3 linked regions of the Homo sapiens genome follow. The protein of the gene in region 1 purifies or fractionates together with the protein of each later gene. This does not show direct contact. Each region holds a gene or a part of one and is shown on either strand. Other genes may lie near its edges.

What was found.
Region 2: the proteins of SHC3 (region 1) and NTRK1 purify together in Homo sapiens (affinity purification with western blotting; 2 studies listed by BioGRID, with this or other methods). This does not show direct contact.
Region 3: the proteins of SHC3 (region 1) and ZAP70 purify together in Homo sapiens (affinity purification with western blotting, with the first as the bait; one study listed by BioGRID). This does not show direct contact.

The regions. Positions count from the first base shown.
Region 1 is NC_000009.12:89,046,202-89,049,928, reverse strand, and holds part of SHC3 (SHC-transforming protein 3), read left to right. Parts: intron 1-2,934; coding exon 2,935-3,085; intron 3,086-3,727. UniProt on the Homo sapiens protein: Signaling adapter that couples activated growth factor receptors to signaling pathway in neurons. Involved in the signal transduction pathways of neurotrophin-activated Trk receptors in cortical neurons.
Region 2 is NC_000001.11:156,867,365-156,870,864, forward strand, and holds part of NTRK1 (high affinity nerve growth factor receptor isoform 2 precursor), read left to right. Parts: intron 1-739; coding exon 740-885; intron 886-1,140; coding exon 1,141-1,283; intron 1,284-3,500. UniProt on the Homo sapiens protein: Receptor tyrosine kinase involved in the development and the maturation of the central and peripheral nervous systems through regulation of proliferation, differentiation and survival of sympathetic and nervous neurons.
Region 3 is NC_000002.12:97,726,881-97,730,607, reverse strand, and holds part of ZAP70 (tyrosine-protein kinase ZAP-70), read right to left. Parts: intron 1-3,727. UniProt on the Homo sapiens protein: Tyrosine kinase that plays an essential role in regulation of the adaptive immune response. Regulates motility, adhesion and cytokine expression of mature T-cells, as well as thymocyte development.

The sequences.
Region 1 (3,727 bases):
GTAGACTCGGTGACTCCAGGGCAGCCACGTAGTGGAAGAAGATTTATGGAGAGAAAAAGGAAAATGACTTACAGAAAATGGAAGTGAGGTTCAGAAATAGCTGGATTGGTTACAGCTCGGCGTTTGCCTTATTTGAACACAGTTGGAACAGTTGGCCGCATTTGATTGGCCAAAACTCGGTGATTGGCACAAGAGTAGGCTACAGTCTGTTTACACCTCCACTTGTATAGTTCAGGATTTACAGAGAAACCTTTAGGCCAAATTTAAATACGTAAGGAGGTAGCTTTAGGCTAAACTTGATTTAACATAATAGATCAAAAGGTTAACACTTATTTAATCTCCATGGGGGATGCATAAGTATATTTCATATTAATTATTATGCTAGCCTTTGTTTCTGAAATGTTGAATAAAAGCCAAATAAATGCTATTAAGATAATACACACAAAAATGAATGGAGGGAGTTAGTTTAACTACCATACTTCTCTGGCAGTGTACATAATGTATGAAGTTCTGTATGTGTTTGTATGTAGTGAAGTTTGAAGGACTTTTGGGGAAAGAAAATGTAGTAGACAGGATCTTATCCACTGAGAAAAATGTCGCCTCCAAATGCAAGTATTGGCATATCATTTCTGGTTTTGTTTTGTTTTGTTTTGTTTTGTTTTGTTTTTAAGAGGGAGTCTGGCTCTGTCACTCAGGCTGGAGTGCAGTGGCGCGATCTTGGCTCACTGCAAGCTCCACCTACCGGGTTCGCGCCATTCTCCTGCCTCAGCCTCCTGAGTAGCTGGGACTACAGGCGCCTGCCACCACGCCCGGCTAATTTTTTGTATTTTTAGTAGAGATGGGATTTCACCGTGTTAGCCAGGATGGTATCGATCTCCTGACCTCGTGATCCGCCCCTCTCGGCCTCCCAAAGTGCTGGGATTACAGGCGTAAATCACCGTGCCCGGCCGGCATATCATTTCTAAAGCAGAGCAGTGACAAGGGGCCCTGCCTGTAGCTTCATACTGTCGGTGACCTGACACCCCCCTCACCTTATCCTGCAGAGGCTCCTGGTGTCCCGCAGGGTACTATCCGAGAGCGGGGTGACGGGGATCTCCTGAGCTTGCCCTGCCTTCCGTTTCAGCTCCGCTCCTCCAGCAGGGTGCAGCCTGGGAACATGAGAGAACCCACACTGCATCCAGCTGTTCCAGCCCCATTCTCTGGGGACACTGAAAAACAAATCAGATGCCACTAAGACTCCATTTATTATTATTTTTAAAATTGATAATTCATATATAATCAAATTGCTCTTTTAAAGTTTACAGTTCAGTTGATTTGTTATATTCAAAAGTACAATTATCACCATTAATTCCAGAACGTTTTCATTACCCCCCAAAGAAACTCTATACTCATCAGCAATTACTCCCCATTCTCCACTCCCCACTCTTCCACCAACCACTAATCTACTTTCTGTCTCTATGGATTTGCCCATTCTGGACATTTCATATAAATGGAATCATACTGTATGTATCTGGCTTCTTTCACTTAGAAGAATGTTTTCAAGATTCACTCATGTTGTAGGATCTGTCAGTATTTCTTTCATTTTAGAGTTCTTAATAATATTTGAGTGTATAGGTATATGACCTTTTGTTCATCCAGTCATTAGTTTATGGACAGTTGGGTACTTCTACCTTTTTTTTTTTTTTTTAATGGAGTCTTACTCCATTGCCCAGGCTGGAATGCAGTGGCACGATCTCAGCTCACTGCAACATCCACCTCCCGGGTTCAAGCAATTCTCTCGTCTCAGCCTCCCGAGTAGCTGGAACTACAGGTGTGTGCCACCACGCCTGGCTAATTTTTGTATTTTTAGTAGAGACAGGGTTTCACCATATTGCTCAGGCTGGTCTTGAACTCCTGACCTCATGATCTGCCCGCCTTGGCCTCCCAAAATGCTGGGATTACAGGCATCAGCCACTGCGCCCGGCCCTACCTTTTAGCTCTTATGAACAATGCTACTGTAAAGATGTATACAAGTTTCCTTATGGACATATGTTTCAATATTCTTATGTATATACCTGGGAGTGAAATTCTGTGGTCATATGGTTATGCTGAAACTGCAAAGCTATTTTCTAAAGTGGCTGCACCATTTTACAGTCCCATGAGCAATGTGTGAGGGTTCTAATATCCCCACGTTCTTATCAACACTTTTTCTTGTCCATCTCTTTGATTATAGCTACCCTAGTGGGCATGAAGTGGTCTCTGGTTGTGGTTTTGATATGCATTTTCCTGATGACTAACGATGTTGAGGAACTTTTCATGCATGTATTGGCTTTTTGTGTATCTCTGGAGAAAAGTCTGCTCAAATCCTCAGCTCATTTTTAAGATCGGGTTGTCTTTTCATTGTTGAGTCGTACGAGTACTTTATATATTCTAGATACATGTCTCATTTAAGATACATGTTAGCAAATATTTTCTCCCATTTTGTAGTTTGTATTTTTACTTTCTTGATAATGTCCTTTGAAGCACAACAGTTTTTTCAAATAGCAGAAGGGAGAATTTTGAGAGGTTCATATTCTACCATTTTCCCTCATATCACTAAATTTCCATTTTGTAGTTGGTTTTGTTTGGGATCAATTTCATGGCTTACAAAAATGTGTGCTGTCCCTTGAGGAGCTGGCTATCCTTAGGCATAATTTCTTTTTTAATTAAAATGTACTTTTACAAAAGGACATCCTTCAAACATGATTGAAATGTTCCAATGAGTGAAACTCTGAATATGGCAGAGATATTTTGCTAAACCACTCATCTGCTTTTCATCTATGCATGAGACCTGGATGGCTGAGGAGGCACTGACTAAACTCTCTTTTCTTAATAACAGGCGCTAACATTAGATTTGTTGATTTTGGCTGCAAGTTCAACTTTTGGCTAAAGCCCTTGGAAATCTTCCTTTAACAGAATGCAGAGTCTGGATGAGCCATGGACGGAAGAGGAGGGAGATGGCTCAGACCACCCATACTACAACAGCATCCCAAGCAAGATGCCTCCTCCAGGGGGCTTTCTTGATACTAGACTGAAACCCAGACCCCATGCTCCTGACACAGCCCAGGTAAGTCTTATAGTTTTTTTCTTATATAAGGAATGGAGGCTAACTCTACTTTATTTCCTTTTGTTTTCTTTGGTTTTATTTCAGGCTGATGTTCTGTTTCATTTTTGACACAGTAAATCATGAGCTTTCTCTCACTGGATTTCATGAGGCATGCAGATGAAGAGAGGCTTTGGGTTAACATCATAAAGCATTGGCCAAATGCTTTGGAACTGTGTGGTGATTCCTGGGATATGAGTCTGGGGGTGTCCTCTGTACCCTCAGACATATTCCATCATACTGTGATCTCAGTGAGGGAAAGAGAGAATTTAAGATTTTAAAAAGGCTTGGGAGGCATTGGGTTCTCTGAAAAGGAGTGAATATAGACGCTTAAAATGATGAGAATTTTATGAGTTTTCTATTTTATTCATTCCCTTGTTTTATGTCCAACTCAAAATTCTAGTAAGGCAATTGCTTTCTAGAGTTATGATATTTCTGTTTTGTTATAGGAAATTTTTTAACGTTACTACCTTATGTGAATGATAATGACACCACTAAAAATGGCAAAATAACGTTGAGCTCAGGGATCTGACACTGAGAGGGAATTTCCTGATTTTTTGAAGGAAATTTCCTGGTTTACAGAGTGGACTTGACCAAGTGTGAACG
Region 2 (3,500 bases), on another chromosome or scaffold:
CTCCTTGTCACCATGCTGAGAGCCCTTGCCTGGTTTCTCATCCTGGGGAGCCTGGGGTGAGGGAGCCCCATGCATCCCTCAGACGTCAGCTGTCTTGTCTTCCACTTTCTGCATTAGATTTCTTTCATTTTTACGTTATTTTTTCTTTTTGTAGAGTTGGGGTTTTGCCATGTTGCCCAGGCTGATCTTGAACTCCTGGGCTCAAGCCATCCTCCGCCTCGGCCTCCCAAAGTGCCGGGATAACAGGTGTGAGTCACAGCGCCTGGCTTATTTCTTTTCTTTTCTTTCTTTCTTTTCTTTTCTTTTCTTTTTTTTTTTTTATGAGACGGAGTCTCGCTCTGTCACCCAGGCTGGAGTGCAGTGGCACAATCTCATCTCGGCTCACTGCAAGCTCCGCCTCCTGGGTTCACGCCATTCTCCTGCCTCAGCCTCCTGAGTAGGTGGGACTACAGGTGCCCGCCACCATGCCTGGCTAAGTTTTTGCATTTTTAGTAGAGACGGGGTTTCACTGTGTTAGCCAGGATGGTCTCGATCTTCTGACCTTGTGATCCGCCCGCCTCGGCCTCCCAATGGCCTATTTCTTTGAATAACATCCTGTTACTGGAGTCAGAGAGAAAGACCTCTGTGTCCTCCCTTTCACCTGTAGACGGTCCTCCCTGCTGCCTAACTGCTCCCTCTTATCCCCTGTGATCCCTCAGGCCCTTTCCTTGACTCTGTTGGTGTCCCCCATGCCCCCCAGGGTCCTGTCGGGGAACCCTCTGCACTGTTCTTGTGCCCTGCGCTGGCTACAGCGCTGGGAGGAGGAGGGACTGGGCGGAGTGCCTGAACAGAAGCTGCAGTGTCATGGGCAAGGGCCCCTGGCCCACATGCCCAATGCCAGCTGTGGTAGGTGCCGGGTGAGGGAGGTGGTGTAAGGGGGCTGGGGAAGAGACCTACCTGCCTGAGGGAGAGGGCACTGAGCAAGCACTGAAAAGGCCTGGGGAATGGGCACTGGCAAAGGCTGGGGGAAACTGCCTGGGGTGACATCGCCTGGGCTCCAGGTCATTGAGGAGGGTGGGGGAAGGAGCAGCCCCGCAGTAGAGTTCTGGGGCCACTCCCAGCTCTAACACCCCTTGGCCCTCGGGCGTCCTGGGTGGCCAGGTGTGCCCACGCTGAAGGTCCAGGTGCCCAATGCCTCGGTGGATGTGGGGGACGACGTGCTGCTGCGGTGCCAGGTGGAGGGGCGGGGCCTGGAGCAGGCCGGCTGGATCCTCACAGAGCTGGAGCAGTCAGCCACGGTGATGGTGAGAAGACCTTCGCTGGCAGCCCCCAAGAGGTCCAGGCAGAGCACAGGGGACAAAGATGGGGAAAGAGAGACACACTGTGGAGGAAAGAGACAACGAATAAGGAGCACACTGAGGTTGAGGGACGGACAGAGATGGTTTAGACCCACAGGGCTCAGGCCTATGCTCTGGGGCAGCCCAGGGCACGCACACACCCTCAGGGTGGGCACTGACCCAGCAGGGACCCCAGGCTATACTTGAAGCCCCAGGACTTAGAACCCCTTTCTGGGAACATGGTGTTGGCTGCAAGGGAGAGGGTCACAGAAACCTTACATGTTGGAGCTGAGAGGAACCCAACAGACCATCCCTCCCGTACATCACTTTTCTCTCTCCCTTCCTTCCTTCCTTCCTTCCTTCCTTCCTTCCTTCCTTCCTTCCTTCCTTCCTTCCTTCCTTCCTTCCTTTTATGGAGTTTCGCTCTGTTGCCCAGGCTGGAGTGCAGTGGCGCGATCTTGACTCACCGCAACCTCCGCCTCTCGGGTTCAAGCGATTCTGCGATTCTCCTGCCTCAGCCTCCCGAGTAGCTGGGAGTACAGGCACGCGCCACCATGCCCAGCTAATTTTTGTATTTTTAGTAGAGACAGGGTTTCACTACGTTGGCCACGCTGGTCTCAAACTCCTGACCTCGTGATCCACCCACCTCGGCCTCCCAAAGTGCTGGGATTACAGGTGTGAGCCACTGTGCCCGGCAGATCACTTTTCTATATAAGGAAACTGGAACCCAGGGAGGAGGCACAATATCAGTTGTACTGCATCCGGGATGAGTTCTCGGGGGTATCGTGGTCTTTTTTCTGGAGATTCTGGAAGCAGCATCCTCTTGGGCATGTGATGAACGTATTAGTAAGGGAGGCATAGGTCTGGCTCCAGCTCTCTCACTAATTAATTCTGGGAATGACTTTCAGAAAAATCCCTTAATCTGCCTGCACTTTGGTTTTCTTATCTGTAAGCTGAGAAGGTGGACATGATGGCCTTCTGATGTCCTGCCTGCCCCTGGGCGTTCTCTGGCCTCTATCTCTGTTATCCATACATGCCTTTGGACATCTTCCCAGGCCTTACCCTTTGTCCTTAGGCTGGCGATGGGCCGATGAGAGTAGCCACAGGTAACTCAGTCGGCCTTGTTGACGAGGTCAACGGCAGCTGACAATGGGCTGTGCCCACCCAAAAAGCTGGCTCCACCTGGGCAGGAGGAGTGGATATGCAGGGACCAGGAATGTGTGCCTGGGGGGCTGGGAGCATGGTGTTTATTTGGGGAGCCTTCACTTTGGTGGGAGAGTCCACCCCAGAATTGCTGGAGGCCCCTGGAACCATGTTGAGGGAGATGCCACTGGGGCGCTGAGCAGGGGGCTTCAGACATGGTGGAGGGACAACTAGCCACTGAGCAGTTCCTCCCTGCTCCAGAGAGCAAAGCTGCCTAGAGTGAGTAAAAGAAAGGGGACCAGGCAGAGGCCATACCCCTGCATGGAGAGACCTTAGATCAACTCTGTTTGGGGTGATTCCAGGATTTGCTTTCTCTTTGGGAGACTTACATGTTTGCTACCATCTGTGTTTTCTAGAAACTACCTATACAAAAGTCACTCCCTACTGGGCACAGTGGCCCATACCTGTAATCCCAGCACTTTGGGAGGCCAAGGAGGGATAATCACTTGAGACCAGCAGTTTGAGACCAGCCTGGGCAACAAAGCAAGACCCTATCTCTTAAAAAAAATTGCACCCTAAATGGGTTAAATGGAGGAGAAGAGAGGCTGCTCTCCCTCAGTTAGGAGGATAAGGGGTGGCAGACCAGCTCAAGGGGAAGAGTTATTGGCCCCACAGTAGTTGGAGGGGATGGGACAGCCAAGGGAAGCAGAGGGCAGGGCAGGGCTTCCCCTCGAAGTGGCTGGAACCCAGAGCTTGCACAAAAGGCTGGAAACTCTACTGGAACCTTTGAACTCACATATTCCAATGGAAGCCTGGGGAAACCATACCTCCTCTGGCATGTGGTCAGAGGATTCCACATTTATAAAGTTTTCGGATAAATGAGATTTATCCACCACTTCATTATTTTCATTTTGTGAAAATCACTTTCTAAAATGTCAGAAGATAATTTGTCCACCTCTTCAGCTTACAAAACAAACAAAAAACCCACAGTTCAGCAAGATGAAGAATTGTCGTAAGATCATGTAACTTACACATGACAAA
Region 3 (3,727 bases), on another chromosome or scaffold:
TGCTAACAGGACATTAGCAAACATGACACAAGCAGAGGCTTGAAAAATGGTTGAACATTGAGGTTGGCCTGCCCTCTCTTGCTTTTCCTGGCAGCTCTCCAAATACCATGGGAATGAGTCCAAGCTAGCCTGCTAGAGAAGGCCCATGGAGGAGAACCAAGGCACCCTACATGAGTGGCCAATAGCCATTCATGTGAGTGAGGCCATCCCAGAGACCATCCAGCTCCAGCCAATCTTCCAGCTGGCTGTGGCCACATGAGTAAGCTCAAAAACCCAGCAGAAGAGGCACCCAGCTGAACTCAGCCCAAATTACCAAGCAACCAGCCAAATTGCCAAGCAAAACAAGAGTGAATAAATGATCGGTGTTTGTTTGTTTGTTTGGGACAGAGTTTTGCTCTTGTTGCCCAGGCTGGAGTACAATGGTGCAACCTTGGCTCACTGCAACCTCCACCTCCTGGGTTCAAGTGATTCTCTTGCCTCAGCCTCCCAAGTAGCTGGGATTACAGGCACCCACCATCATGCCCAGCTAATTTTTGTATTTTTAGTAGAGACAGGGTTTCACCATGTTGGCCAGGCTGGTCTCAAACTCCCGACATTAGACGATCCGCCTGCCTCAGCTTCCCAAAGTGCTGGGATTACAGGTGTGAGCCATCACACTTGGCTGTAAATGACCATTGTTTTAAGCCACTACATTTCAGGGTATGAATACAGCACATTGTTACACAGCAAAAGCTAACCAATACACTCTTTGGAAAGAGATGTGTGAGTTCATAAAGAGCAGCTGCAAATTCCCAGATAATAACCACAAAAGCTAAGACATTGGTGTTATCACCACATATATTTCAGTACCATAAGTTCTACTTGATTTACAAAAAAAAAAAAAAATGCTAGGTAGTGGCAGTTCTTTGTTCTTGCAGTTGGAACTTGCACTTAAGCCAGAAGTACAGGCTAAAAAATCAACTTGTATCTCTGCTCTTAAAATAATACATAGAACCTATAAGAGCTACATCTGTCTCTGGTTCACGATTGTAAACAAAACAAAACAAAAGGGCTACAATTTATTTATTAAGATATTGGTTCTAAATTCCTCACATATTTGTCCTATAATCACAGCACTCCCCACAAAGTAGGCACTATTGTTATCTCCATTTTGCAGATGAGGAAACTGAGGCACAAGATTATGTATCTTGCCTAAATTGCAGAGTTGGTAAGAGATAGGAGGGGGAGCCAGGATTCAAATGCATTTCTGACTCTACAGTTAATTGCTACCTAGGACTAACACCCAGCTCTGTCACAGATTATCTGTGAAACCCTGAATAAACTGCTTATCCTCGCTGTGCCTCGGTTTCCTTATGTATAAAATGAGGTAACTGGTCTAAATCATAACTTCTTGACCTGAAAAGGGTTCTAAGGACGAGGTTCAGGACCAACCATGATCTCATATAACTGTCTGCAAAGTCTTTGAGGTGAATATGCTTTGGGGGATTGTGAAAGGAGCAGTCAGTAGGATTCCAAAGAGGTCTGCAGTCCAGGAGAGGATAAGAAACACTTGACAGGCCAGGCGCGGTGGCTCACGCCTGTGATCCCAGCAATTTGGGAGGCCAAGGCGGGTGGATCACCTGAGGTCAGGAGTTCGAGACCAGCCTGGCCAACATGGCAAAACCCTGTCTCTACTGAAAATACAAAAATTAGCCAAGCGTGGTGGTGCACGCCTATAGTCCCAGCTACTCAGGGAGGCTGAGGCAGAAGAATCACTAAACCCGGGAGGCAGAGGTTGCAGTGAGCGAAGATTGCACCACTGTGCTCCAGCCTGGGTGACAGAGCAAGACTCTGTCTCAAAAAAAGAAACACTTGACAATGTACTCTCTTAAAGGCCCTTTCCAGGACAAGTTTCTTTTAAAGTCGAATCAGCCGGTTCCATAAAATTGCTGCCAATAACACAGAAACAAGCCAGCATTGGCAGTGCACAGCCCTGGGTACAATTAAATCTGTTCTTCGGCAACCATGAACTGTGATCAATGGTAGGCGTGGTCCTGGTCTTCACTCTAGGCCTGAGTAGCACGTGTCTTTCTCTCACACCCCAAGCCCTGAGAAAGCAGTTATAGACTACAGGAACCACAAGAAGAAGCTCTCACAGTTTCTGTCCAAAGCGTACCTTGCCTAATTTTCCAGGAGCCTGGCTCTTTGTAGCTGCTTCGTCTCTTGACGTTTACCCAGAATGAGTCATTGTCCTCATACCACTGTGCCAGCTGTGGACCTCACTGCCAGCCACACGCTCTATGCTGTGCCCAGATGCTGGGCATCTCTCCTTCCTAGCCACACCCTCCCACCGCCAACGCTTGTCCTATTTGCCTGGGAGACTGCACGCCAGTTTGATATGCAATGCACAGACAGCTGCTTAAAGCTGTTGGCCCTGGCTCTCCTGAGACTCCTCTAATCTCAGCAGACTGGTTGACTCTAAGCCTGTCATGAGCTCTGCTGTGTTACACAAAAACTGTTTGAACTTTTCCTTTGGGCAGTGAAACCTCTGCCACACAACATTGTGTGTGGAAGCCTAAGATAGCAAACAGATCAAAGCTGAGCGGCTGTCGTCATTCAAGCTGGAACAGGGGCCCAAATCCCACCTGCTCAACCCTTCTCTCACTCTCCCACCCCCTAGAATCCTCTGCCACTCTCAGGAGGCTTTAGGGAATCTGGGGGAAATTTTTAAGCCATTGGAGTGGCAGAATCATGACCTGTATGTGTGTGTGTGAGTGCAAGATGAGGAAGAGAGATGGGGGTGGGGAGGGAAAGAGAGAAGAAGAAAGGAAAACTGAGACAGAAGAGAGGCAGAGATGGTGGGGATGAAAAGCTACATTGGGGATGTAGGGGGAAAACAGAGAAGAAACTCAGATTATAAAATCAAAGAAGACAGATGAATTTACATTTTATGAAAGAGAAAGCAGAGACGGAAGGAAAGAATCAGCTACATCAATAGGAAGGGTTTAGAGCCTTCTTCGCGTGTCCAGCCTGGGGAGAGCCCCTGGACTCTCAGGCACCTGGGGTAGCATGTAATGGACGAGGGGGATATGAGCATGTGAGAACGTGGGAGCAAACATTACTAACATCTTGGCGAGGGTCACACCTGGGGTGGGGTGATGCAACATCTGGAGGAAGGTGGGTAATACCTGGACCAGCCATCACCATGTACTGCAAGATGGAGCCCTCCAGATGCAGCAGGGCAGGCCCTGCCCTCAGGCTGACAGTCCAAAAGGAAAGAGAGACAGCCCCCAACACCCATGTTCACAATGCCCATACCTTCACGACAACTTGCTTCATCCAATCCTACGACCAACCGTTTGCAAAAATGGCTCCCTGCATTCCTCTCCCTTAAGGAATCCCTTCCCTACAGTGACTTTGGTTTTGGTCGTATGACTTGCTTTGTCCATTAGGACATCAGTGACATTACACAAACAAAGGCTTGAACTTGCCCTGTCCTCTCTGACTGATCTTGGGAACCCTGCACCACCACCACACAAACAAGCTTCAGCTAGCTTGCTGGATGATGGCTGCACTGGGCCAGCTCATCCCCATCACCCAGGTGACACTGAGCCAATGGCCAGTCATGTGAGTGTGGCCATCCCAGCCTATTCAGGCCCAGCCTAGATGACCCAAACCAGAACTGCTTAGTTAGCTCACAGAATCATGAAGAGCAATAAACTGTCATTTTGAGCCAATAAATCTTAGG